Regions from separate parts of the Homo sapiens genome. Here region 2 is linked to region 1. The links come from fine-mapping of genetic effects on gene expression. A gene starts in region 1. The other region holds a variant in brackets. All regions are shown on one strand. Distances are between the middles of the regions.

The links.
Region 2: its variant is fine-mapped to the expression of RAB33B-AS1 in tibial nerve (GTEx, PIP 0.90).

The regions. Positions count from the first base shown.
Region 1 is chr4:139,452,382-139,455,292 of GRCh38, forward strand. RAB33B-AS1 (RAB33B antisense RNA 1) reads right to left here and starts at 1,660. Exons shown (of 1, transcript NR_159964.1): 1 at 1-1,660. It overlaps RAB33B (RAB33B, member RAS oncogene family), which reads left to right and starts at 1,740. Exons shown (of 2, transcript NM_031296.3): 1 at 1,740-2,063. The coding sequence starts at 1,815. RefSeq lists enhancers at 1,028-1,367, 1,988-2,037 and a silencer at 1,438-1,767.
Region 2 is chr4:139,478,165-139,481,075 of GRCh38, forward strand. No RefSeq gene overlaps it. Among named protein-coding and RNA genes, the nearest start is that of RAB33B, 25 kb to the left of the region's middle. The variant A/C (reference allele first, on the strand shown) is at 1,282.

The sequences.
Region 1 (2,911 bases):
ATACAAAAAACAGGGATGCAATGATGTTAGTTTTTTTCACCATCCTTGAAATTCTCCCATTAACCACAGCTCTGAGTTTTCAACTGCTCTTTGTCCTTAAATCTTCAGATTCCCTCCTTTGAATGGGATAGGTAGAGCAGATTAGAAGAAATATATTCCGAGGCTCTCTAATAGTTTCTGGATGATTAACCTTCATGAAAATAACCTCACAGATAAGTAATTAGGATTTTTCAGCCCATTTCTATAAACTAAGTAAACTTTTTTTCTAGTGAACATAACTTGATATATTAGTGACTGTAGAAAGTCTTTCTACAGCAACAGGAATTATATCAAGGCTTTTGCAAATTCCTGGCAACTCCGGGCATGTTTAAGTTCTACTACTCATCTGTTCTGACTATATTTTCATCTGATGGAATAAGCAGTTCATCTCCTTTCCTAGAACTTTTAGTGCTCTACTGTCCCCCTCACTTTAGTTAAGGTCTGCCATGTCCTCCTCTCCGACAGTCCTTGACTTTCCCAATGGCATATTCATCTGCTCAAACAGATGTCACTGCAAAACAAAACAAACTTTTAACAAAAAGCAATGTTTGCATATTTGGGGCCTTTTGTATGACAATATTGCACGTTTCCTCAGAAAAATTCACGGAGATTCTTTAAGGTTGGGGGTTTAATCTATTGATATTTTCCTTAGGTAGACAAAGACAACCTCTAAGTGCGCTCAGTTAATCTTTAACCGCTACATCATCGTCACCCAGGCACTAAGACATAACTAGGGCATAATGAGTTTTATTTCCACCAGGGGCGCCTAGTAACTACCAGGTTCAACGCTCCCAGGTGGCCGACATGTGATGTGCTCTACTGTTTGGGCTGGGGATATTAGCTCAACAAACTCTGGCCACAAGGATCACGCGGATATTCTTGGGGATGCCTAGCGAAATGCGCTGTACCTAGGCCTCGAACTCTCGCCTGCTCTCCGGTGGGCGGTCTCGAACTCCAGCCTGCTCTCCGGCAGCCCACAGCAATGCGCCTGCCAAGACCTTAGGCTGCAAAACTCGCCACGGCCCAGAGCTCGCCTCCAAGTGCGCCCCGCACAGGGCAAGCTTTCGGCGAGGACTCGCGTCCCACCCATCTAGCCCTGGCCGCTGTCCCAACTCCCGCAGTTCACAGAGGCGGCGGCGGTGAGCGCAGCCGATGCCACATCCTCAGCGGCAAGCTGAAGAAACCTGTCTCCTCTCTGGGGCGACCAAACGATACGTCGATGCCGGAACCGACCCGACGCCGGAGCCGTCGGCTCCGTCCTTACCGTTGCTCTCCAGGTACACGCCCCCGTCAAAGGCGGCTCTGCGGCCCTCTCGCGAGAGAGTGCCCGTGGTACCTCCTTCCTCTCAGTTGTCTGTCTCTCCCCGCCCCCGGAGTGATTGCGCGGCTTCCTCCAGAGGGCGGGAACCTTGGACGTGGCGGGGCTGGGTCAGTCAGGGCGCTGGGCCCAGCCTCTCTGCAGGCTGGCCTTCCGCGCTGCCGTGAAGCCCCCGACAGGTCCCACGCCTGCCTAGGTAGACCGGCGCCAGCCCGAGTGACGCCTGGCGTGTGGCCGCGGGCAGGCGGCTCCGTGCGGCGGGGCGGGCGGGTGCCACACCTGTGCGGGCAAGGGCGGGGCGGGAAGGTGCGCAGGCGCGCTCGGGGCTGGTGGGCGGTGGCTCCTGGGAAGTTGCGCAGCCGAACTGGCCGGCTGGGCGCGCGCTCTTGCGGTGGCGTAATCTCTCAGCCTTTCTGTGTCTCCTTTCCTCCGCCTCAGTTTGGGGCGGGTCGGGGGAATGGCTGAGGAGATGGAGTCGTCGCTCGAGGCAAGCTTTTCGTCCAGCGGGGCAGTGTCAGGGGCCTCAGGGTTTTTGCCTCCTGCCCGCTCCCGCATCTTCAAGATAATCGTGATCGGCGACTCCAATGTGGGCAAGACATGCCTGACCTACCGCTTCTGCGCTGGCCGCTTCCCCGACCGCACCGAGGCCACGATAGGGGTGGATTTCCGAGAACGAGCGGTGGAGATTGATGGGGAGCGCATCAAGGTGAGCGGATGGGGAACTGTTGGGGAGGACAGGGTGACAGGTGTCCCAACCCCACCGTGGGCTGGTCGCTGGCCGTGTGCACGGTGTGTGTGCGCTCCATTTTTTTCTCACGCTGATGAGATTGGAGTTGGGGATTGGAAGGATTGCAATACTGCAAACTTCTAAGGCAGCGTTTCTCAGACTTCATTGTGCATGCGATTTACCTGGGGATCTTGTTTTTGAAAATGCAGGCTATGATTTAATAATCTCGCTGATGATGCAGGTGCAGCTAGTCCGTGGACCACACTTTGAGTTCAGGAGTGTAGGGCTTATCTACCGACCCATTTACTGTGTGTGTCGTGTGCTGGGAGTCAGTCAAATATGAACGGAGGAAAAACAGTGAAATTGCGCGAGAATGGAAAATTCATTTAATCAGTAATAGTTATTAAACATTCATTCGAGCAGTGCCTTAGATGTTGTGGAAGTAAAGCCTATTGCCTTTGAGGAAGTACTTAGGTATTCTCTTGCATACAGTTTTGCTGTAGTAGTTTCTTTATGATACTGATTTTAGAAAAATCTATTTTCCTGCAGAAACATTCTATATGTGATAGTTCCTACTCAGGTTGCCAAAAGCATTTCTCATGATGCCACCTCAGACACACGCCCAATTCTTTATTCCCTTTAAGTCGTTATTTTTGGTCCCTGGGACTGGGGACACTGAGTGACAGTAATAGTGGAGAAGGTAGTATAGGCCCCAGGGCAGGTTTGAAGTTCTGAGGGGTTGGAATCTAACAGTGGAATGAGGATCAATGACAAGGCTTAGGCCTCTTGATGGTATAAACCTTAGACACACCTTCATAGCAAGCCAC
Region 2 (2,911 bases), 26 kb after region 1:
AGAGTTCCATGTTTCAATAAAATGTGATCAGTAATGGGACTTCTTTTTTTAAGTTAAATTTTTGTATAGGAAATACATTCACATGGTTCAATACTTGAACCATTCACAAAAGAGTAAATGGTGAATTCTCCTTCCCACTCTTTCTCCCAGCTCCTCAGTTCTTATCACAAGGAACCAGTACCATGAATTTTTTTTGTTTCTGTTTTTGTTTTGAGACAGGGTCTCAATCTGCAACCTAGGCTGGAGTGCAGTGGTGTGATCTCAGCTCACTGCAACCTCCACCTCCTGTGCTAAAGCAATCTTCCTACCTCAGCCTACCAAGTAGCTGGGACTACAGGTGCACGCCACAACACCCAGCTAATTTTTTGTACTTTTTGTAGAGCCACGGTTTTGCCATCTTACCCAGGCTGTTCTGGAACTCCTGGGCTCAAGTGATCCATTCACCTTGGCCTCCCACCCCAGTTCCCACGCTGGGATTACAGGTGCGAGCCACCACACCTGGCCCCTGAATTTGCTGTTTCTTCACATAACAGTATACCCTGGAGATGAATTCATGTTAAAATATGTAAGCTTCATCATTCTCTTTTAGGTCTCATGGAATTCCTTTAGTTGGCCATTATTTAGATAGCCCTCTACTGATGAACATTTAGGTTGTTTCCAGTCTTGCTATTACAAGCATTACCAAAATGGATATCATTTTACATAAGTAATTTCTCAAATGTGTGAGTATATACAAAGGGAAAATTCCTAGAAGTGACATTGCTAGATGAAAGGTATCTGTGTTTGCAATTTGGGTTTCTAATCGCCCTCCTCAGAGGTTGCACTAGTAATAAAAAGCATGCCTGATTCCTCACACACTCACAACACAGTCTATTATCAAAGGTTTTGACATTTGGAAGGAACATTAATAGGTGAAAAATGATATCTCACTGTGGTTTTAACTGGCATTTATCTTATGAGTAGGGTTGAGCATCTTTTTATATTTAATGTTTACATTTTGTTTTCTGTTGAATTGTCTGTTCACATTCTGTCAGGTTTTGTTTTTTTGCCTTTTGTAGGGATACTGAATATTTTGGGTAAGTTAGTGATGTTTTATTTTTTTTTCCTAGTTTGTTTTTTGCCAAATGGCATTGCTTCTAATGGTTTTTGGCATGAAAATAATTTTAATGTAGTGAAACTTAGCAGTCTTTTCCATGACTCTCATTTTGTGTCATAATTAGAAAGACTAACCTTGCCTGAGATAAGAATTCTCGGCCAGATGCAGTGGCTCACGCCTGTAAT[A/C]CCAGCACTTTGGGAGGCCCAGGCGGGCAGATCACTTGAGGTTGGGAGTTTGAGACCAGCCTGGCCAACATGGTGAAACCCCGTCTCTGCTAAAAATGCAAAAATTAGCCGGGCATGGTGGCAGGCGCCTGTAATCCCAGCTACTTGGGTGGCTGAGGCAGCAAAATCACTTGAACCCGGGAGGCAGAGGTTGCAGTGAGCTGACATTGTTCCACTGCACTCCAGCCTGTGGGACATAGTGAGACCCTGTCAATCTCTCTCTCTCTCTCTTTCTCTCTCTCTCTCACACACACACACACACAAGTGAATGTTAGCTATGTACTGGATAATTATGATGTCTCAATGTAGGTTTATCAAATGTAATAAATGTACATAGTGAGGGAGGCCGTGTGTATGTGTGGATGGGCAGGGGCTCTGTGGGAACTTGATGGTTTCTGTTCCATTTTTCTGTGACCCTAAATCTGCTCTAAATATAAACATTATTTTTTTATTATACTTTAAGTTCTAGGGTACACGTGCACAATGTGCAGGTTTGTTACATATGTATACATGTGCCATGTTGGTGGGCTGCACCCATTAACTCGTCATTTACATTAGGTATATCTCCTAATGCTATCCCTCCCCCCTCTCCCCACCCCATGACAGGCCCCGGTGTGTGGTGTTCCCCACCCTGTGTCCAAGTGTTCTCACTGTTCAATTCCCACCTATGAGTGAGAACATGCAGTGTTCTGTCCTTGCGATAGTTTGCTCAGAATGATTATAAACCCTATTTTTTTAAATAGATGTGTCAGAGACTGCAGGTTGCCTACCCAATTTTTGTCTTCCCTCTTGTATTAATTTCCTAGGCTGCAGGAAAAAAGTACCATAAATTGGGTGGCATAAAAAACAGGAATGTATTGTCTCACAGTTCTGGAGGCTGGTAGTATCAGTAGTGTTGATTTCTTGTGAGGCCTGTGAGAGAGAATATGTTCCATTTCTCTCCTGGCTCACTGCAGCCTCGACCTCCTGGGCTCAAGCAATCCGCCAAGCTCTGCCCCCTGAGTAGCTGGGAACACAGGTGCATGTCACCATGCCCAGCTAATTTTTAATTTTTTTTTTTTTTTGAGATGGAGTCTCACTCTGTTGCCCAGGCTGGAGTGCAGTGGCGCCATCTCAGCTCACTGCAAGCTCCGCCTCCCAGGTTCACGCCATTCTCCTGCCTCAGCCTCCCGAGTAGCTGGGACTACAGGTGCCTGCCACCATGCCCGGCTAATTTTTTTGTATTTTTTTAGTAGAGACGGGGTTTCACCGTGTTAGCCAGGATGGTCTCGATCTCCTGAACTTGTGATCTGCCCGCCTTGGCCTCCCAAAGTGCTGGGGTTACAGGCGTGAGCCACTGCGCCTGGCCAATTTTTAAATTTTTTTTGGTAGAGATGAGGTCTCCCTAGGTTGCACAGGCTCATCCCAAACTCCTGGGCTCAAGTGATCCTCCAGCCTCGGCCTCCCAAAGTGCTGTGATTACAGGTGTGAGCCACCATGCCTGGCCAGATTTTTTCCTCTTTTTTGTGTGTGTGTGATGGAGTCTCGCTCTGTTGCCCAGGCTGCAGTGCAGTGGCATGATCTCGGCTCACTTCAACCTCTGCCTCCCGGG